Linked DNA regions of Homo sapiens. The main gene of each other region encodes a partner of the protein of the gene in region 2 in a complex. Each region holds a gene or a part of one and is shown on either strand. Other genes may lie near its edges.

Region 1 (7,731 bases), on a different chromosome or scaffold from region 2:
CCAGCTGTGGACTTTTTGGGTTAGCCTTGACCCGCAAGGGCACAGCCTTGACTGCGGTGGTCCAGTCTCAGCCCCAATGGTCCAGCCTTGGTCCTTTTGGGTTAGAATTGACCCCCAACCCACAATGGGTCCAGCCTTGGCTCCACTAGTCCAGCCTCAGTCCTGACTGGTCTAGCCTTGGCCCCTTTGGGTCAGCCTTGATCCCATGGGTCCAGCCTTGACTATAGTGTCCAGCCTGGGCCCCACGGGTCCAGCCTCAGTCCTGACTGGTCCAGCTTAGAATCCAAACGTCATAAAACAGATACTTTAAGTTTGAGCAAACCATGCCCCACTCCCGCCCGGCTGGTGCTTCCACTCTCCACCCTGCCTGCTTCTCCCCACCCCTATTCCTGGCCCTCTTCATGGCTGTGGTTTTACTCTAGTTCATGCCATCAGCTCATATGCATCTGTCTTCCTACTTAGACTAAAAGCTCCGTGCAGGCAGGGAGTGTCTTAGTCACACTGTCCTCAGCACCCATCGCTATGCCTAATGTGAAACCAGTGTGAACAAACTATTTGGAAAATAAAGACATGAATCACGGACAACAACAAAACACATGCATCTCCAGGAGCCTCTTCCCACATCCCGTCTGCTGGGTGACATCCTACGCGGAGCTAGTGTCACAGTGAGGCCGTTTCTGGAAACTAACCTGGGGAACCAGCGCACCTGCTAGGCTCACCTTGAGGAAGCGCCGATAGCCTCGCACAGCTGTCTCAGGCAGTGGGTGTGAGCGCAGGAAGCGCAGATACAGGGGCCAAATTCGAGAGTGCTGCGTGATGGGCAGTGCCCGGAGGGCACGGTCGAAGGTGCGGCGGGTGTGTGTGACGCGCCCCTGGTCCATGAGGAACTGGCAGTAATCTAGCCACAGACGAGGCATCTGGGGGTGTGGGGAGAGGCGGCTGGGGCTAAGCCACGGACTCCATGGCCTGGCCACAGACACTCGATGTCCTGTGGCTGAGCCACACCTGGGGCCACCACATAAATGCGGCGGGACCCAGAAACCCCCAGCTCCAGGACTGAGTCCAGCCCAACTTCCCATGCAAAGAAGCAACAGGAATCCAAGCCCCCATCCCTAACATGCTGAGCCCAGCCCCTGTCCCCGCCCCACCCACCACCATGGACTGAGCTCCACTTCCCGATTCATCCCCTCGCCGAGCCCCAAACCTTGTGCATGAACACAAAGGCCCTCTCATGACAGTTGTTGACATCTTCATAGGCAGGGTCGGTCACACAGCGATGCTTCACCTGTGCCCGACGCGCCTTCAGGTATCGGTACCAGAGTTTGTAGCTGGGGAATAGGAGGGGACAGATGCTGATCGGTCAGCTTTATGGACACCCCCAGAACCATTTGCCCTGCCCCAGTTGGCAAATGTGGGAAGAAGGGGTGTGGGAGGGGTGACATGTCTCAGCAATGACAGGGACAGACTGGGACATCAGAGAAGGTGTGCTGACCCATCAAGGGATGTACAGGTCAGTGATGAAACACGAAGCAATCACCCGGGACCCGGGACCCACTTGGCAGTTTTGTTATAACTGGACCAGGTGGGGTGGGGGCTGGTGGGCAGGGCAGCTGGAGCCATTCCCACCTGCAGGGCAGCAGCTTGAGTGCCCGCTCGTATAGCTGATTGAGCCTGGGCTTCGGGGCGCCCTGTTTGAACTCGATGTAGCGAAGCCAGCATTTGACAGAGAATTGGTTCCGCATGATTTCCTCCTCATAGGGGAGGTCCTCTTCCTCCTGCCAGGGCCAGGGAATGGGAAGAAGAGAGGCCTACCCTCAGAGCCTGTGTGCAGCACCATCCCACTGCTGGGGCTCAGGTCCAAACTCCGGACTTTTACCTAGATCCCACCACCCACCAAGGAAGTCAGGTCACCAGATGCCCAGGCACCAAACCAGATGCCCGACACCAAGACAGTGGCCCAGACCTTTACCCCTCAGAATTCAACTACCCAAAATCGAACCCAAATCATCAGACTTCTCAGTCATTAGGGCTCTGGGCCAGGAATGAGTCCGCATCACCACTCGCTTTCTGCCCCAGATGGTCAGACTCCTTAGATACCAAGGCCCTGGCCCAGATGCCAGTCCTGGACACCAGACCCCACTTCTTCAAAACGTGCCTCTTCCCAGACACCAGGCCTTTGGCCCCTCAGACTCCCACTGTCACCATCTGACCCATCTCCACCCCAGGCCCAGATGACCAGATCTTTACCCCAGCCACCAGGGCTCTCAGGTCCAGATTCCAAGCCACTAGCCCCGCCCCCAGGATCCCACTAGCCAGCGTCTAGCTCAACTCTGCCCCAGAAATTAAAAGCTAGGCCTTTATCTCACAGGAGGAGTTATACACCAGAAGCCAAGCCTTTAACTCTGCACACCAAGAATCTGGTGAAGATGTCACGCCTCTACTCCAGAGAGTAAGTATTTCACTGGCCATCGCCTGACAAGCTCCACATCACCAGGGTTCTTCTAGCCTGGCCACCACCCCAGAAACTGTCATGCTGCAGTCCAGGCCTAGAGACCGCTATCCAGAAAACCAAGCCTTCATCCCAGAAACCAGAACCCTGGCCTCGTAAGCAAGCCTTTACTTCAGACACCGATCTTCACCTCTCAAGGTTCAGTTATGCGATCTTCCTCCTCTCCCATTCCCTGCACGCCCCCATTTCCGCCCCTGGTTCGGGAGGCTAGACGCTTCCCTTCGACAGTGGTTTTCTACTCAGACCCGAAGATACAACACCATATTTTTACTCCTGGACAGTTCGGTGCGGACATGACGATCCGGTCTCTGGCCCATTAGGGTTCCCAGACCTTGGCCTGGCAGTTTCGGCCTAAATCTCCTTGCCGACCCAGCCTCGATCCCCTGCGGCGTCCAGGTCCCAATGCCCCAACGCAGGCCACCCCCGGCTCCTCTGTGGACTCACGAAGACAAGGTCCGGCCGCTCGGGCCGCGAGAGTCGCGCCATCACCACCATTTTTCTGGATGCCCAGGTACAGGAGAGAGTCGCGCGCTTATGACGTCTACCACTGACGGCCCGCCCCTCCGAGCCAGACCCGTTTTCTATTGGTTAAATCATTTTTGACGGACAGGCCCACGTTATTGACTTCTTTTCGACGACGCCAGCGACCGGAAGCAGAATAGAGGCGCCAGAAGATGCGCCATCAGGATACACATTGGCCAATCAGCTTCAGCAATGGAGCGTGCAAAACACCAGTGAGCTTCTGTCTTGCTGGAGGGTCGGCTTTGGGCGGAACTGGCTTTGTTGACCGGGAGAAACGAGATGGGGGTGAAGCTGGAGATATTTCGGGTCAGTGGACACAGGAGTGGGTTGGGAGGCTGGGCAGGGGATCTTCCTGGATCTGAAGATGAGGTTGGAAATGGGGGGACTTCAAAGGAAGAGGGAGCTCCAAGGAGAAAGCTCTTAAGATTTGAGAGGAACCTTTCTGGTTGGAAATCCAGGAGAGGGGACGCTGGGCTGGGGGGGTTCTCGGATTTGGGCTTCTGGGTTTGGGGGCTGTGAGAGGGCTGGTCCGAGGAAGGACCTCAGAGAGGGGTGAGCTGAGAAGGGGGCTCTAAAGAAGGAAGACTTAAGATCCTGGGGGAGCTCTCGGGCTCGTGGTGGGTGGGTGTCTATGACAGGGAGATTCCTAGACTTCGAGAAGTGGAGTTGAAGAGTGACGCCTCCTGGGTTTGGGGGTGCTCCCGGGATCTTAAGTGGGGATGGGTAATGAGGTCTCGAGGAGATGCTTTTGATTGTAGCTGGGGCGTCTGTGTGTCTGTCTGTGTTTGAGAGGAAGACTCCAGCTCAGAGGGAACTTTCAGGAATGAGGCCTCCTGGATTATAGGAGTTAGGTTTTAGGGTGCGAGGTTTCTGTACCCTTGGTGGGAGTTCTGGGATTCTTGGGTCGGCCGTAACGAGGCGCTTCTGGACTCTGCAGTAGGATGGGTCCCCCAGGCTCTGAGGAGCCTCTGCACATTGCTTGGGGGGAGCTCACCTCACCCACCCTCTGCCATTCCAGATGATAATCTACCTCACTTTCCCTGTGGCTATGTTCTGGGTTTCCAATCAGGCCGAGTGGTTTGAGGACGATGTCATACAGCGCAAGGTGGGCATAAGAGGAGTGTTTGAGGGTTCATTCCAGGGGTGGGAGAGGGTGTGGGGCAGCAGTCTGCTGGGGACTAATGTCTGCCTCCCATAAGCCGACCCTGCCCTGATGTGGGGCTCTGGAGGCCTTTGGCTCGTGTCCCATTTGTGACTTTTCCTTACAGAGGGAGCTGTGGCCACCTGAGAAGGTAAGTGATCTCTTCTTCCTGCCAGAGGGATGGAGGAGGCTGGATTCTTGTATCCGGGATGGGTTTTAGATGAAAATTTTAGGCCAGGCGCAGTGGCTCATGCTTGTAATCCCAGGGCATGGGAGGCTGAGGTGGGTAGATCACTTGAGGTCAGGAGTTCAAAACCAGCCTGGCCAACATGGCGAAACCCCATGTCTACAGAAATACAAAACTTAGCCAGGCATGGTGGCAGGCGCCTATAATTCCAGCTGCTTGGGAGGCTGAGGGAGAAGAATCACTTGAACCCAGGAGGTGGAGGTTGCAGTGAGCCCAAGATCACGCCACTGCACTCCAGCCTGGGCAATAGAGTGAGACTTTGTCTCAAAAAGAAACATTTTACTCTCAGCCATGAGTAAGGAACCGAGAGCAGAGGAGTAGATGGTTTCCTTATTGCCTTCTCCTGGAAGAGTGAAGCGGATCCCACGCGGACCCCTTTGTAATTGGCAGGGGGCTTCCAGTGAAGACACTGAACCCTGAAGCCGTGGTCTGGGGCAGGGTGGTGGGAGAGGTGGGCGGGGGGGGGTGGTCCCGGCTCTGAGGTGTGTGCCCCTCCCCCCTTCCTGTCCCACCCGCTTCTCCACCCCTAGCTTCAAGAGATAGAGGAATTCAAAGAGAGGTTACGGAAGCGGCGGGAGGAGAAGCTCCTTCGCGACGCCCAGCAGAACTCCTGAGGCCTCCAAGTGGGAGTCCTAGCCCCTCCCCTGATGAAATATACATATACTCAGTTCCTTGTTATTCATTTAAGTGTTTTATTCTTTTATCAGTTTTTGGGGGCCGAGTGAGACCCAGGATGCCTCAGGCCCTCAGGGGGCTTGTGTCGGGGGCTGGGGGCTGCTGTTCCGACGGAAGCCGAGAGCGGTCGGGTCCTGAGGGGTGAGCAGGGGTTGGGGACTGAGGGTCCCAGCTCGTTTCTGTGCTCCGTCCTGTGGATGAAGAGGGGTCAGCCAGGGGGAGGGCTCAAGGGCAGTGCCGGCCACAGGTGGCGAACAATGGAGAGAGGGTGCAGGTAGCCACCGTGTCCCACCTCATTGTGAGCACTGGTCTATGTTTACCCTCAATATCTGCCATTTAGGGTGGCATTTGAGTGTGAGGTGGCAGGTCTTGGGGCCCTCGCTGGGATCTTGATCAGAACCCAAGCTTCGTGTATGTGTGAAGTCAACAGATGTGAGTATACAGATGTATATATCCTATGTGTGAGCTTACGTGACTTCCTCCCTGGGATACTTTCCTAGGAAGGGGTCCTATTTTCTCCCTTTGGCCTCCCCAGAACCTTCAGACTTGGGGGCAGGAGCCACAAGTTCCAGCCATGGGTCTTACACTAGCATGGCCCCTGTATAACCTTGGGCCCCTCTAGCCACTGCCTGGGCCTTGGTCCTCCCATCTGAAGTCAGGGCAGCGGATGGACAGAGATGGGGCAGGCCCTGTTCCCTCCTGGCTGGGGTGGAGGGCAGGATCGGAGAGCACTGCCTGGCGGGTTTCTCCTCGACATCGCCAGAACATCACCTACCTTGGACCCCACGGGCTGGAAGCCGGGCAGGCTGCTGACTGTCACACGTTGGTCATCCATGCGGCGGCCCTGGGTACTGGCCAGCATGTCCATGAGGCTGTCCATCTCGGGGGTGGGGTCGCTCTCTGCGTGGACGTTCACAGACTTGGGAGGACACAGCCGGAGTGGGGGCCCCCAACCCTACCCCTTCACCCCCACACAGATGCTTCAGGGTGCACAACCACCTCCCACATCCCGTGCCCCCAGGCCCTCCAGATGACCACTTGCCCTGCACTCCCACCCCGTTCACGCCCCATGGACAGCACCCCCGTGCCCATGCTCACGGCTCTTGGTGGTCTGGCCCGGCCCGGCTTGCAGTGAACAGCGCTGTCCCTCCATCCGGTCGCCCTGCACGTGGCTCAGCAGATTGAAGAAGCCCTCCTGGTCTGGGGAGCCCGCCTGGGGACAGACTCGCTCAGTCTGGTTGGCCCTTCAGCTTGGGGGCCCCTCCCCAAACTTCCTAGCCAGCTTGCTCACACCCTGACCCCGGGGCCTGCCGTCCCCACTTCCTCAGCTCTCACCATGGTCCCCGCCGATCCTCTCTGCAGAGCTGTTCTGAATGAGACATGAGTCTCCTTCCCAATCCCGGCCCCCGCCCCAGGGGCCCTGGCCAGCAGTGCCACTTCACGTGGTACCGCTTCAAGGGACAGGCTCCGATGCGTGTCCCGCCGTCCTAGATTGGGGCCTGATGAGTGTGGCCTGGGAGCTGGGACACGAATCAGGGAAACATGGCCCAGGAGCTACCCCCAGGTCCCAGCATCTCCCATCAATAGGGGTCCACACGGAGAGCCCTGCCCTCTGCCCTGGGGCCTGGCACTCAGACCCCCAAGCCCACCAGCCCCTTTCTACAGCCACAACTGGGTCAGGGGGTCCTAGGAGACTCACTCGTTAATTAGGTGCCCTACAAACTAGTCTTGTCAATCATGGGCTCTGAGACCTTGAGCTGGGGGTGGGGTGGGGGCAGGGCCCTCTCACCTCGGCACAGGGGCCTGAGCCTTCCTCCGTCTTCTCCTCCTGATCCATCATGTCCCTGGACTCCAGTCACTTTTCTGCTGGCCTCTGCCCCGGCCCAGTGCCAGAGAGGGCCTTTTAAACGTCCAGGACGTGGGGGTGTGGATTCCCCCCATCCCCAAATCCCCAGCTCATGCCCCATCTGCTCCCACCCAAGCTTAAGCCCCATAAAGATCATCCAGATAATTGTTTGCCCACAACGATGCTGGATCTGGCATGGTGGGTAGGGGGCAGGGCGACCTGAGCTTGGACCTCGCTGTGCCCAGCAGCAATGACTGGACCCCAGGGACTCTCAGGTGTGATGTCACAAAAGGCCTGAGCAGCATCCCCACAGTTGGAGAAGGGAGGCCAACAGTGTAGGGTGGTAGCTGGCTTAGGGAGGACTTGCAGGTGTCCCCACCCAGCCACCCAGGTTCCCCCACTGGCTCCTGAAAGGGCAGCTGCCACCTGCAGTCGGTACAGAAAAAGGAGGTTGGAGTCAAAGGCCCCTTCCCTCCCTCCCTCTCTGCACCTGCCTCAGACACCACCGGCCACCCTAGCTCCAGCTCTGTCTCCTTGGCAGCAAGTCAAGGGGTCTCCCAGCCACCCTTCCTTCAACTCACTGTCCCTGGAGCCTGGTTGCCTGCCCCAGACCCCAAAACAAGAAAGTCTGGGGTCTCCTGTTCCCACACCACCTAAATGCCAGGTTGAGCTATCTCCTCTCCTCTATCACCCTAGCCCCAGGTGGGAACAGGAGGCGAGACTCCCTGGGGACAGAGGCAGGCGGGGAGAGGACGTCCCTGCCTTTTCCCCCGAGCCACTGTGGCTTTCCC
Region 2 (7,242 bases):
GAAAGACAAAGGTACAAGTTTAGGCTTGCAGCCAAATGCTTCTTATGGTGTCTAAACACATGCTCAGTAGCAAAAATCCAGAAAAATGCCACCTCTGTATTTCTTGCCTAGGTTTTGTGTGTTTCTAACAAAGAGCACTTCCTGGCTGATTTTAGAGCTGGTGGTGCAACAATTTGCCATCTAGTTGAAGGCACAAGAAATAATCACTACTTCCAGGCAAGAATGCTCAATGAACAGGGGTGCATGAGCTAGCTCCTCTGCAGGGCAAGAATGGGAGGGCCTGGCAGGTCTGACATGTTATTCACAGTCCAGTCTGATTATGTGAGAGACGCTTTCCTTAGAACAGCACTTACTTCTGATCTCTCTGGAAGCATCAGCCTAAGGCCCAAAAACCTAACCAAATGGTGAAAAGCTTCCTTTGTAATCAGTAACAACATCACAAACCAAGGACTAGACACTAGTAACACAGACTCTCACCTCTGCCAACTCAAATTCAACAAAAGCAAATCCTCGGTGCTTTTCTACAAAATGGAAAAACAAAAACAAGTAATTACTATGTGGGGTAGTGGGAAGAAACAGGATGGTCACAAAGTGAAGTCAGTTACATGTCGTATCCAAACACCAGAAGTTCTATCCAATCACTATTTAGGAAGAAGGAATCTCATTCTTGATTCTTCTTATACAATATTTTAAGCAATAATAAACTTTGTTTTTTTAATGGACATAGCTGAATAGTAAACTGTATTTTTAATTGATAAGTATTCAATTATTCTACGAAAGCCAAACTTAAAACCTTAACCATTGCATGCAAAGCAATTAGAAAAATAAAGTCATTTGACCTATCAATTATCTATCTAAATATATATTTTGCGCATCAACTGTGCATAAAGCATGAATCCTAAAACCTGATAAAGATGCTCAGTCTTTATCTTCAGGAAAATGCTGAACTAACTAGAAAGACCAAGCACAATAATGTTTATCATAGAACTCAGAGACTAGAAGGCCCTTAGAAAGCCAACATAACCTTATCATTTTGCAAATAAAGATTTCCCAGGCCCAGAGAGTTTAAAGACTTTGCTAACAATCATATGCAAGGTTGATGATAAAACTAGGCCTAAAACTATAATCTTAAAAATGACAACAAAGGTAAACAGAAAACTGAACTGTGGTTGTGATACCAATCGATGGGAAACCCACCCAGGGGTGCAGAGGCCAAGAACCCCCGCCCTCACCCACCCCCATTATGGGGCTAGGCTTTCCCGCTGCCTCATTTAATAGCACAGCTGCAAGAAGGTGCAGGTGGGATGGGGTACCCATCAGGTAGATTAAAACAACATTCAAATCTCAATGTAGTTCAAACCTATCTCCCTACTGGTCTATTGAAAAATCTGTCTTATCTCAACCCAACAGCTGAAGACTCTGGAAAGTATTCAGAGTTCACAACCACATGGCCTCAGAACATTCCTTCTCCATCGAGATCACTGTCACCAGACACCTTCCTGAACTTACCTGTAGTGTATACTAACCATATTTAGAATGCATATTTAGAATTGTGATGTGACTTTAATTTTTTAAGGTATTTTCCTAGTAAGAGGATTCTGAACGTGAGAGACACTAACTCACCTGTTTCATAATCCAGAGGAATCTGAATATCTGTGATGTCTCCAAAAGGAATGAACGCAGCATGAAGAACTTTGTCGTCCACTTCCTCTGCCAGTCCACCTGCAAATAAGCCAAGGGCCTTCTGAGCCACTGATCTCCATACTCTTGCAGAAGTCCTTGCAGCCCAGTTAGCATGCTAGCCAGGGGACAGGACCCTTCCATTCAGTTCTTTGGGTAAACAAACATCCCCCTCTCATCTCTGCCCACCCATACTTATGAAAAATATTCCTCTCTTCGCCCTTCTTTCAGACTCTCATCTAGTCCTGGGATTACTGCAATAGCTTCACAACTGACCTCCCTGCCTCCATTCCATCAACTCCACAAAGCCAACTAGAATGATCTTAGGAAAATGCAAATTTGAACCCGTAACTTTTCGCTTACACTCCTTCAAAGGCTTCCCACTGTCCTCAGGATAAAGTGCAAACTCCTTAGCAGTACCCACCTCTCCAGCTTTTTTGCTTTGCTTCCTAATTTCCTGGGTCTCCCGAATAATGACCCACTTGCCCCCAAGTGTCAGGCTATTTCACACCTTTGCGACTCCCTTGCAGTGAACGGCCTTGCCTCTGCTTCGGTTACGTAGCTAACTCCTGCTCATCAGCTCTGGCATCGCCGCATCCAGAATTTGCCCTCGCTTCTCCAGATGGATGGGTCATTTGTCCCGCAGCCAGGCCCATATTATCATGATCCATCCTCACTACAGCGCTTATCAAAAGTGTGCTACTGAGGTAATTCCACTTTTTTTCTGGCTAGTCTGGGAACTCCTTCCTTTATGGCAGGGGCTGGGGCTGAGCCGTCGCTGCACTGAATGTTTGTAAAACAAATGAACGAGAGGATCCGAAGGGCCATAATACTCCTTTACCGCTCCTCGGGGCCCGCTGGAGCTCAGCGGGCTAGGAAGTCAGAATAATCATTCCGTCTCGGGTTCACGCACCTGAGGTGTGTGGCAAGGCTGTTCACTGCAAGGGAGTCGCAAAAGCAGAGGCCCAAAGGTGTGAAATAACCTGAACCTTGGGGGCAAGTGGGTCATTTTTCGGGAGACCCAGCGAATCGGGAAGCAAAGCAAAGAAGCTGGAGAAGTGCGTACTGCTAAGAAGTCTGCACTTTTTCCTGAGGACAGTGGGAAACCTTGGAAGGAGTTTAAGCACAGCCAGAGCTATCGCCAGCACTACCGCCAGAGACCCGGCCTTGACAGCAGCTCGCCGTCCTCCTGGTTCAGAGATGCGTCCCACCCCACGCCCCGACCCTTGGGGGTCGCGTTCACTCAGACTCCGCCTAGCAACCCCTCCTGCTCACCCACGTACAAGACGCGCTTGGTGGTGGCCATCTTGCTCGCGCGCTTTTCCGCCGGAAGCCAGCACTCGACCCGTCCTCTTCCCCACTGTCCCGCCCCGCCCCCAACGCTTAGCTCTTAGACCCCGCCCACCCTCGCGTTGGTCCAACCGGCATCCCGCTACCCGGATGCACTGGGCGCCTTGTGAGGTGCGCAGTGGTAAACCAAGGGACGTGGTCCTCGCGCTTCCCAGTGCGCACCGTGTTGGGGGAGGGAAACCTTGGCCGAATCAACCCGATTATTATGGGCAAACGATAAACTCTGGTGCTTGGCCATCCTGCGCGTCTGTTTTTGGACAACCTGGGAGCTAAGAATGAATTTTACCTTTTGAAATAGTTGGAAAAAATAAAAAAACTATATTTTCTTGGCCGGGCGTGGTGGCTCATGCCTGTAGCCCCAGCACTTTGGGAGGCTGAGGCGGGCGGATCACCTGAGGTCAGGAGTTCGAGAGCAGCCTGGCCAACATGGTGAAACCCCGTCTCTACTAAAAATGCAAAAATTAGCCAGGCGTGGTAGCGGGCGCCTGTAATCGCAGCTACTCAGGAGGCTGAGGCTGGAGAATCGCTTGAACCCAGGTAGCGGAGGTTGCAGTGAGCAGAGATCGCGCCGTTGCACTCCAGCCAGGGTGACGAGAGCGACACACCATCTCACAAAATATATATGTATATTTTCTTAGCACATGAAAATTATGTGAAATTAAAATTTCAGTGTCCGTAAAGAAAGCTTTATGGGGACACAGCCACGCTCATTCCTTTAAGTATGACTGTGGCTGCTTTCCTACTACAAGGGCAGAAGAGCTATAGCCTGCAAAGCCTACAATAATATTTACAATCTGGCTCTTCAGAAAGAACGTTTGTCTACTCGTGTTAGGTTTTGAAAAGAAGGCAAGGGTTAAAGAAAGACACACACACACACACACACACACACAGAAAGAGGGCGGCTCGACAGCAAACGCAGGCTTTATGTCCAGCATAATAACCTACAGAAGTGGGGAACCAGCCTAATGCCAGTGCCCACCACTGCTTACAGACTGGGCAATTTATAGGTATGGGCGGTAGGGGTCTGGGCAGTATGGGTTGCTGCCTAGCAGGATATTGATATAAAGATGTTCTCATGATGAGGCGGTTTGGCCCTTGTTCCAGTGGGATGTCATCATGGTGTCCCTTGGACCTTTGCCCAGGAAGATATGAGAGGGATGTTTCTTTAGTTGGGCCTTTGTCTGCCTTGTGGTCGGGTGGTTAGGCAGGATGTTTCTCACAGCCCAAACCCCTGTGAAATGTTTCACTTTGACCAAGGTCTGCAGAATAGCAGGGAGCTTACAAAATGGTGCAGTTTAGAGTAACATCTTGGACTAAACCCACTAATATATAAATTACAGGTTGACATAGTGGTAGGAAATAATGGGACCATCTATTTTATATGGAGCAGGGGGTTAAGACCTTCCTGAGGTGACATTTAAGCTGAATTCTGAAGGAAAAGGAGCCAGAGAGAGGAGGAGGCAGCTTCCGCACACTCAAGGAACTAAAAGACCAGAGCCTGGGATGGTGGGGTGGAGGGCATATCAGGTGGGAAAGGTAGGCAGAGGGCCACATCATGAGGGTGCTGTAAGCCTTCTGGAAGATTTGGGAGCTTTGAGAAGCTGCTGAAGTTACAACAGGAGAGTTACATGCTCACATCATTTTAGACAGTGCTCTGACACTAGGCCCAGGATGGGTTGATTGGAACCCAGGAGACCAGGAAGTTAATGTAGTAGACTAAGGAAGAGTTGATAGTGGCTCTGTTCCTCCAATCCACTTGTCCAGGGTGATTTTTTTTTTCTTTTTTTCTTTGAGACAGGGTCTTGCTCTCTTACCCAGGCTGGAAGGCAGTGACATGATCATGGTTCACTGCAGCCTCAACCTCCCAGCCTCAAATGATCCTCCCACCTTAGCCTCCCGAGTAGCAGCTGGGAGTACAGGTGCACGTCACCATGCCCAGCTAATTTTTTTTTTTTTTTTTTTTTTTTAGAGACAGGGTCTTGCCATGTTGCCCAGGCTGGTCTCAAACTCCTGGACTCAAGCGATCCTCCTGCCTCGGCCTCCCAAAGTGCTGGGATTACAAGTGTGAGCCACTACACCCGGCCTAGGGTTATCTTTCTTCAAAATAAACCTAAATTCTCTAGAACTCCCTACCTAAATCACTGATGCTGCTAACAAGGTCCTTGACAAGGGGTCCATGCCTACCTCAAGTCAACCCTGACCTCCACATCAGTTCCTCACCTACTTACCATGGGCTCTTTTTCCTTGCCTCTGCTTTTGCTCATTGAGTTCTTTCTTTTCTCCATCTGGAGGCACCCACCAGTCCTTGTCAGAGGTCCTAGTTAAGCTTCACTCACCCAAATCCCCTATAGACAGAGTCCATAGTCCCCAAGTTCAGAAGTCAATTGGAATACACCCTATAACTATAGTCAGGTATGTCTCTCTCTCCCAGTAGATGAAGGTATTTGACACCACGGCCTGTACCCATTGTATTCCCAGAGCTAAGCAGTGGCTGCGCACACAGCTGACCTTACCAACCTCATGCCAAACCAGGGAGTTGATACTTATAGGAATGAGGCTGTGAGATCTGATTAGGAGAGCTCTTTGTGTACCCGTCACTATTCCAAAACAAAAGGTCACTCTCAGGAAGAATCTGACCAGGCGTCCTTTATGTGGTGTGGTATAATAAAAAATAGATACTTGGTCTTTGTCCTAGTTCCTGGCACAGAGCTTCTAAAATCATTGGAATATCCTGAGTGCTGTGTCTTTTGTTATTCATAATGAGCCCATTTTGACCCTACCTAAGTTTGTGCTAAGCAGATGACTCAAGGTAGAACCCCTAGCTCGCTTCAGGATGGGGGTTGGTCATCAGAGAAACCAACCATGTGATTAGAGGGTTGGGACTTCCAGCTCCCGCCTCCAACCTCTGAGGAGAGGAGGGGGTTGGAAATTGGGTTCAATCACCAACACCCAGTGGTTTAATCAGCCATGCCTAGGTAATGAAACCTCATATAAACACTCTAAATGCGGTTTGGGGAGTTTCCAGGTTGGTGAATACATTGATGTGCTTGGAACACAGCATGCCTAGAGAGGGCATGGAAGCTCACCAGCCCCTCTCCATTCCCACCTTGCCCTGTGCATCTCTTCCTACAATCTTTACAGCCAAGTTTGAATGCATTGTTTGGATAAGGAGGAACAAATGTCTCCTGTGGGGAAGATAGTTCATAAAAAACCAAACGGAATCTCAGTAACCTTGGTGTCTGCGTCAGCACCAGCTTCTGGCCCTCTCTTCTTTCGTAGGCGCGTGGGTCACTCACTCAGCACCTGCTTCTGTTCTTGGGAAAGTGCTGCCGCCAGCATGGAGGCAGTCAGGGGTTCCTGGCCTGCACATGGACAGCAGGCTGGGGTGCCTGGGAACCAGGAGAAGCAGTGGGTTAGCACCCAAGGAAAGGACAGCACTCGATGGTGGTCAAAGTTAGGACACTCCAACCACTCGACACCTGAATGCTACCATTCAGAATCCAGGCGAAGGGGAGAAGTAATGGTTTTTGACCAAATTCAGCGCATTTTGAGGGGAGTGGTGGTGATATAAAACTGTATAGATTCTCCATCGCGCTCAGTGCCTCACGCCTGTAATTCCAGCACTTTGGAAGACGGAGGCGGGTGAATTTCTTGAGCTCAGGAGTGTGAGACCAGCCTGGCCAATATGGCAAAACCCTGCCTCTACTAAAAACACAAAAATTAGCCAGGTGTGGTGGTGTCTGTCTGTAGCTTCAGCTACTCAGGAGGCTGAGGCAGGAGAATCACTTTAACTCAGGAGGCGGAGGTTGCAGTGAGCCGAAATTGTACCACCGCACTCCAGTCTGGGTGGCAGAGTGAAATTCTGACTCAAAAAACTAACTATGAAGCTGAGTGTGGTGGCTCACACCTATAATCCAAGCAATTTGGGAGGCCGAGGTGGGCGGATTGCCTGGGGTCAGGAGTTCAAGACCAGCCTGGCCAACATGGTGAACCTCTGTCTCTACTAAAAACACGAAAATTAGCTGGACGTGGTGGTGTGCACGTGTAGTCCCAGCTACTCGGGAGGCTGGGGCGGGAGAATCACTTGAACTCGGGAGCCAGAGGTTGCAGTAAGCCAAGATGGCACTACTGCACTCCAGCCTGGGTGATAGAGTAAGACTCCATCTCAAAAAAACATCCAAACAAACAGAAAAACTGCATAGATTCTCATCA
Region 3 (7,022 bases), on a different chromosome or scaffold from region 2:
GGGGGATGGAAGAACTCCAAGGAGAGCCCCAGCTGGGTCCTAATACCCCAGGAGCCTTCTGGCTTCTTCACTTTGGGCCTGCAGGGTCTCGCTTGCATACTTCTGGAGGAGTTCCATTTTCTTCCTTCGCACCAGTGCCTCCTCAATCTGTGGAAATTAAGAGTGCAGGGCTCACTCCTCAGCAAAGCCCCTCAACCCCTGCCAGACCCAGCCAGGAGGAAGTCCCCGTGGGAGAAGTCCATCAAGGAGTCTGATTTAAATACGCAGAATAGTCTCCAAGAGTCCTAACTCCCTCCCATTGGAAACATTTGAACGATAGAATGGCCTAGAGCAGAGGGTCCTGCCCTTTTTGGACCCCACACCCTGAACACAATGACAGGTGTCATGTGGTCAGGACCCTGAGCTGCCCTGATGGGTAGGAAGGACAACGAAAACCCACTACAGTGCTCTGTGAAGTCTGCTTTAGAGAAGCCCCCGGCGCCCAGGCAGCTCTTAGCTGTGGTCCTACCTCTTGCTGCGAGGGAACAGGGACGTGAGCAATGAACTTCTGCTGGCTGTCGTCCCCTCCTTTCTCCTGGCTGCCTTCCTCGTCCGACTACAAACAGAACAAACGAAAGTCCATCAGTAGGCGCCCAGCTAGATAAATGCTGGCAACTCTATAAAACACACTACTCTGCAACTATTTAAAAGAAAAAAAAACTAAGAAAGTTCTATACTTATAGAAAGACACTTGACCCACAAGATTAAGTAAAAAAAGCCATAGAACACGCTGTATATTATGCTACCTTTTGTCTAAGGAGGAAATAAGAATAGAAATTACTGACGGCAGTGAGACCAAGGTAGATGAGGGACAGGGTGAGGAAAGAGAATCTTTGTGGAATATCTTTATATTCTTTTTCACTTTTGAACCTTGTGAATGTATCACTATTTTAAAAAATTTAAATGTAAAAGAATGTACCATGCATAGAAAAATAATCAGCTCAGAGGTTGCCTATGAGTCAATACAAATTTCTAATAACAAAGAAAACACCACGGACTTGGAAAGAGAGAAGGGGTCTTGTGGCGAGTCAGGAGTCCACTGTTTGCTGGGCTCTGCCAGACACCGTGCACGACCCATTCCCTGACTGGCTCCCAGTGGGGATGGCTTCAAAAGCCTCTTGAGGAACCTCTCATCCACTGCTGGCACTTGGAGAAACTGGTTGTATCTAACACTAAACACATACCTACCCTGATCTGGTGGTTCCACTCCTCAGCATGTACTCAAGAGAAACACTGCACGGGAACAAGAAAATTCCCAGCAACCCTATCTGCCAAAACCCCAATCTGGACACAACACAAATACCCACAAACATTAGACACAAAAGAGTACACACGACTCACATATGTAAAGTTCAGACACAAGTGAAATATATGGGTCACAAGAGGTCAGGAGGGTGACCCCTGAGGCAGTAGTGAGCTTCTGGCGCTGTGGTCCTGTTCTGTTTCTTCACTGGTATTTGCTATGTGTGTGTGTGTTCACCCTGTGAAAATCCAGTGACCTACACATTTAGCAGGTGTGTACTTTTCTGTATATGGAACAACACTCAGCAGTGAAAAGGAATGAACTATTGAACTCAACAACCAGAGGGATGGCAAGGGCATCATGTTAAGTGTCAAGGCCATCGTGAAAGGTGACTCACAGCATGATCCCATTTATAAAACATTCTGAAATGACAAAATCAGAGATGGAGAACAGGTTAGGGTTCAGCTAGGAGAAGAGATGGTGAGGACAGGGAGGTGTGAACTGTGAAGGGGTGGCACCAGGGATCTTTGTAGTAAGGGGACAGTTCCCAGGCTGGAGTGCAGTGGTGCAATCACAGCTCACTGTAATCTGAACCCCCTGAGCTCAAGCAATTCTCACACCTCAGCCTCCTGAGTAGCTGGGACTATAGGCATGTCCAACCACACCTAGCTAATTGTTTTTATTTTTGGTAGAAACAGGGCCTCATTGTGTTGCCAGACTGGTCTTGAACTCCTGAGTTCAAGCAATCCTCCCACCTCAGCCTCCCAAAGTATTAGGATTACAGGTGTGACCACCACCCCCGGCCAGTTCTGTATCTGGATTGTCATGATGGCCACATGGATCTCCACACATGGAGACAAATGACACAGAACTCCACACACTCAATATGCCAATGTCAACCTCCCAGTTTTACTACTGTGCTAGAACTACATGAGATACAACCACTGGGGGGAACTGGGTGAAGCATACACAAGATCTCTCTGTACTCTTTGCAACTTCCTGTATCTCTATAATTATTTGAAAAGAAAAAAAAATTCTGCTGTGGGTTTCCACTGCTCTTCCCCACAACGCCAGCTCCCCATCAGCCTCCACTCACACCCAGCACCCACTCTCTGCACTCCAGCACACTGGGCTGTCCTTTGTCTCTCACACTCATCACAGGATCTCTCAGCACATGATGCGCCCCTGCTGGGAGCCCTCTCTCATCTCCTCCTTCCTTGGTTAAGTTCGCTGGATCATCCTAATCTCAGCTGAGGGTTTAGCTTCCCAGCAGAGTGTCTGCAGGCTGTCCCTGCACCAGGCTCTATTGAGGGACTGTTGCTCACTGTCTCTCTTACTGGACTGCCTCCCCCTGGACTATGAGCTACACTCCAAGCCTCTGTACCACCATGCCCCTGCACCTGGAATGCGGCTGGCTCACAGGAGCCATGAATTAAACACCTGCTGAGAGAGCAAATGAATATTTGTACCTAGAGGAAATCCTCCTAAGGCATGCTGCCATCCTGCTTCAGACCTGCACTGAACCCCAGTGCTGGCCCAGCTGGACATGAGCAGGAACGTCAGGCCTGTTATATCCCATGTGACATTAAGTCACTAAACCTGAGCCTGCTTCTTCACCAGTGATGTCTCAGCAAGCTCCTCATGTGGAACCTGAGCCATCATCCATGTGTGGGTGATCCCCTCCCTTCTCTCAGTCCAGCAAATCAGATCCACCTAGACCTGTGCAGGCAGCAAGGACTCCAAATATAGGGCCCCGCAGAAGAGCTCTGCCTGGGAGGCAGAGATTTCAAATGTTGAATTTTCCTTGTTTCAGAATACCTCCTTTAATGCAGTGAAGTTTTGGTAATGTTTCATAGAAAAAATAAAAGGTGTAGCACAGACAGATATGTCAAGATTACTTACATGGTGGCTATAATAAAAAGTAATAACTAAGATATATAATGAGTATTTCCTATAAATCAGAAAATATGCAAAAGATCAGAAAATATGCAAAAGGTCTGAAAATATGCAAAGATTCCCCAACCATGACCCTCTAAGAAAGTTTCTTCTCTGCTCTGCGTTTCTTTCCATGTGTAAGACAGGGGTGTTAGGGCTGGGAGCAATGGTTCACACCTGTCATCCCAGCACTTTGGGAGGCCAAGGCAGGTGGATCACAAGGTCAGGAGTTCGAGACCAGCCTGGCCAATATGGTGAAACCCCGTCTCTACTAAAAATACAAAAATTAGCCATGCGTGGTGGCACTCGCCTGTAGTCCCAGCTACTTGGGAGGTTGAGGCAGAAGAATTGCTTGAACCCGGAAGGCAGAGGTTGCAGTGAGCCAAGATTGTGCCACTGCACTCCAGCCTGGGCAACAGAGCCAGATTCCGTTTCAAAAAAAATAAAAAAGATGGGGGTGTTAGACTACAGAAGAGCAACTGCCACTGACACGTGAACAGAAGTGATGAGGTCATGGGCTAAAGCTCATGGCTTCCTCTGTGTTTATCAGTCTAATTCTAGTGTATGCAGAAGGGCCTGTCTTTAAGAAGGAAAGAAGGAAGCCCTGGTGTAAAGCACGGCCGGCAGGGCACTCTCATGGCTGCTGCCTCCTGAAACCCTCCTGTAATCTCGCAAGTGTTTTCACAGCCATCCTGCAGGTGAGCAAGCTGGGCTGTGAACCCTGACTCTGTATTTGGGAGCCAAGTTTCCTCCCTGCCACACTTCATGGCTTGGAACAGATGGCAGTGAGTGCCAGAGGGGGCCAACCCCAATACCTCCTCCTCGGTGACTGCATAGATGTTGATCTCTTCCTCCTCTTCCTCCTCCTCTTCCTTTTCTCCTCTTGCCAGCCGAGCCTCTCTCTCTGCTTTCCACTTTTCCACTAACTCGGCTCTGACTGAACACAAGAGAGGGTAGGTGCTATTTATTTGTCTCTAAATGAGCTTTCAACACTATGCAGGGAAAGGCCAACACTATGCAGGGAAAGTCTAGACATCCCCTCTAGAAAGGGACACCCTTCATTCTGCCCCCGTGGGTGGAAATGGATGTGAAGCATGGTAGTCCTACAACAGCTCTGGCCTTCAGTCACTACAAAGCAGCTTTTTAGGGAACATTCCCAAATCCTCCCCACTTCCACAACCTGAGTGGATTCCCAACATGTCCACATGAAAAGAGAGAAGGCAGGGGCAGAGCATGCTAGAAAGCAGCTCCAGCTCCAGACCACTTGCTTCCAAAGTCCTGGCCTGATGTGTCACATGGGCACTGGTATTAGCACGAATCCACATGGTGACCTCCTAGCAGACAGGGACCGGTCAGACGTGGCTCTCATGGCTTCCCCAACCTGTTACCTCTGGCCCACACAGCTTTGACTGCCTCACAGGGGTCAGGGAATTAGCAGACCATCACGCCTGAAGATCATTAGCAACAAAGAAAACTCCCTTCTGGCATAAAGCACTATTGAAAATCCTGTTTTCAAAGGACACAACAGAAAACAGATGCCATCTATTATGAAATAAAATGCCCAGAGACCTACGTTTCTTTTCATATTCCTGTTCCAAAGGCACAATAACACCATCATCTTCATCTAGGTAACCATAGTACTCAAAATCGATTGCCTTCATGAGCTCAGCACGTGTCTTTCTGGGAGGAGGAAGAGCTATAAGAAACAGAAATGGAGCTGAGTTTCCAAGTCATAATCACACTCCAGCGAAGCTGTCTCCTGATGCAACGCTATACACACACGTGGCACGTATGTTCATGAAAATACCAGGTGGGCGCAGTGGCTCATGCTTGTAATCCTAGCGCTTTGGGAGGCCCAGACAGGTGGCTCACAAGGTCAGGAGTTCGAGACCAGCCTGACCAACATGGTGAAACCTCGTCTCTACTAAAAATACAAAAATTAGCCGGGCGTGGTGGTGCGCACCTGTAATCCCAGCTACTCAGGCTGTGGCAGGAGAATCGCTTGAACCTAGGAGGCAGAGTTTGCAGTGAGCCGAGATCACGCCACTGCACTCCAGCCTGGGCGACAAAACAAGACTCCATCACACAGAAAAAGAAAATACCATGGATAGACACTTTTCTATACTATTCATGGAATTATTTAAGTGGTAGAGCCCTTTTTAAAATCAGTACTTGGACCCATTTGTCCGTTTAAAAGCAATCTACCTAAGTAAAAAACAAAACCAGGCCGGGTGCGGTGACTCATGCCTGTAATCCCAGCACTTTGGGAGGCCGAGGCGGGAGAATCACGAGGTCAGCAGTTCAAGACCAGCGTGGCCAATATGGTGAAACCCCATCTCTACTAAAAATACAAAAATTAGCCAGGCATGGTGGTGGGGGCCCCTGTAATCCCAGCTACTCCTGAGGCTGAGGCAGGAGAATCGCTTGAACCCAGGGGACAGAGGTTGCAGTGAGCGAAGACTGCACCACTGCACTGCAGCCTGGGCGACAGAGCGAGACTCCATCTCAAAAAAAAAAAAACAAAAACCAAACACGAGATAGCAAAAAGCTTCATGTACAGAAATATGCATCACAGTATTATTTATATAATAGAGAAAACTTGGGAATAACCTATGATTGTAAATTGCAGAATATGTATGGGATGGGATATCCTGCAGCCCCTGTAATGCTATTTCACAAAGTATTTTAATAACACAGGAACTGTCATAATGTTTAATGAAAAAGCATGACAGGAAACATAAGTAAATAAAAAAGACAAAAGAAGCTAGAAACAAACAAAAAAGATACATGAGAAAGCCCTAAAGAAGATATTTTCAGACTAGGACTACAATCCAGAATATTTAAGTAATTCTTTTTTTTTTTTGAGATGGAATTTCGCTCTTGTCCAGGCTGGAGTGCAATGGCATGATCTTGGCTCACTGCAACCTCTGCATCCCGGGTTCAAGCGATTCTCCTGCCTCAGCCTCCCGAGTAGCTGGGATTACAAGCACCCGCCACCACACCCAGCTAATTTTTGTATTTTTAGTAGAGATGGGGTTTCACCATGTTGGCCAGGCAAGTCTCGAACTCCTGACCTCAGGTGATCCACCCGCTTAGGCTTCCCAAAGTGCTAAGATTATAGGTGTGAGCCACTGCACCCGGCTAAGTAATTATTAAAAATGAAAAACAAAATGACAACCAACCAGATTGGTGAAAGAATAAAAGCTGGCCAGGTGCAGTGACTCATGCCTGTAATCCCAGCATGTTTTTTTCTTTTTTTTGTGGGACGGAGTCTCGCTCTTGTTGCTCAGGCTGGAGTGCAATGGCGCAATCTCAGCTCACCACAACCTCCGCCTCCTGGGTTCAAGCAATTCTCCTGCCTCAGCCTCCTGAGTAGCTGGAATTACAGGCACGCACCACCACGCCCGGCTAATTTTGTATTTTCTTCTTCTTCTTTTTTTTTTTTTTTAAAGACAGAGCCTCGCTCTGTCACCCAGGCTGGAGTGCAATGGCGTGATCTCAGCTCACTGCAAGCTCCGCCTCCTGGGTTCACGCCATTCTCCTGCCTTAGTCTCCCGAGTAGCTGGGATTATAGGCACCTGCCACCATGCCCAGCTAATTTTGTATTTTCTTCTTCTTTTTTTTTTTATTTTTTATTTTTTAATTTTATTTTTTTAGACAGAGCCTCACTCTGTTGCCCAGGCTGGAGTGCAATGGCGCGATCTCAGTTCACTGCAAGCTCCGCCTCCTGGGTTCACGCCATTCTCCTGCCTCAGCCTCCCAAGTAGCTGGGATTACAGGTGCCCGCCACCATGCCCAGCTAATT

Evidence for each region. The genes of interacting proteins can lie anywhere in the genome.
Region 1: PPIE (region 2) and XAB2 share a complex: the UniProt entries of both Homo sapiens proteins name them as parts of the XAB2 complex.
Region 3: PPIE (region 2) and ISY1-RAB43 share a complex: the UniProt entries of both Homo sapiens proteins name them as parts of the XAB2 complex.

What each region holds. Positions count from the first base shown.
Region 1 is NC_000019.10:7,626,524-7,634,254, forward strand, and holds the start of XAB2 (pre-mRNA-splicing factor SYF1), read right to left. Parts: upstream 3,023-7,731; 5' UTR 3,005-3,022; coding exon 2,954-3,004; intron 1,776-2,953; coding exon 1,627-1,775; intron 1,329-1,626; coding exon 1,205-1,328; intron 918-1,204; coding exon 720-917; intron 1-719. Other genes in the region: protein PET100 homolog, mitochondrial, read left to right, coding at 3,311-3,337, 4,050-4,136, 4,300-4,323, 4,950-5,033; PCP2 (Purkinje cell protein 2 homolog), read right to left, coding at 5,166-5,285, 5,870-5,994, 6,193-6,307, 6,430-6,614, 6,884-7,097. UniProt on the Homo sapiens protein: Involved in pre-mRNA splicing as component of the spliceosome. Involved in transcription-coupled repair (TCR), transcription and pre-mRNA splicing.
Region 2 is NC_000001.11:39,734,645-39,741,886, reverse strand, and holds the start of PPIE (peptidyl-prolyl cis-trans isomerase E), read right to left. Parts: upstream 3,006-7,242; 5' UTR 2,987-3,005; coding exon 2,956-2,986; exon of another isoform or gene 2,594-2,955; intron 1,723-2,593; coding exon 1,624-1,722; intron 522-1,623; coding exon 478-521; intron 1-477. UniProt on the Homo sapiens protein: Involved in pre-mRNA splicing as component of the spliceosome. Combines RNA-binding and PPIase activities.
Region 3 is NC_000003.12:129,130,042-129,137,063, forward strand, and holds part of ISY1-RAB43 (ISY1-RAB43 protein), read right to left. Parts: intron 4,914-7,022; coding exon 4,791-4,913; intron 4,155-4,790; coding exon 4,033-4,154; intron 596-4,032; coding exon 509-595; intron 148-508; coding exon 47-147; coding exon of another isoform or gene 40-46; exon of another isoform or gene 1-39. Other genes in the region: pre-mRNA-splicing factor ISY1 homolog, read right to left, coding at 40-147, 509-595, 4,033-4,154, 4,791-4,913. UniProt on the Homo sapiens protein: Component of the spliceosome C complex required for the selective processing of microRNAs during embryonic stem cell differentiation. Required for the biogenesis of all miRNAs from the pri-miR-17-92 primary transcript except miR-92a.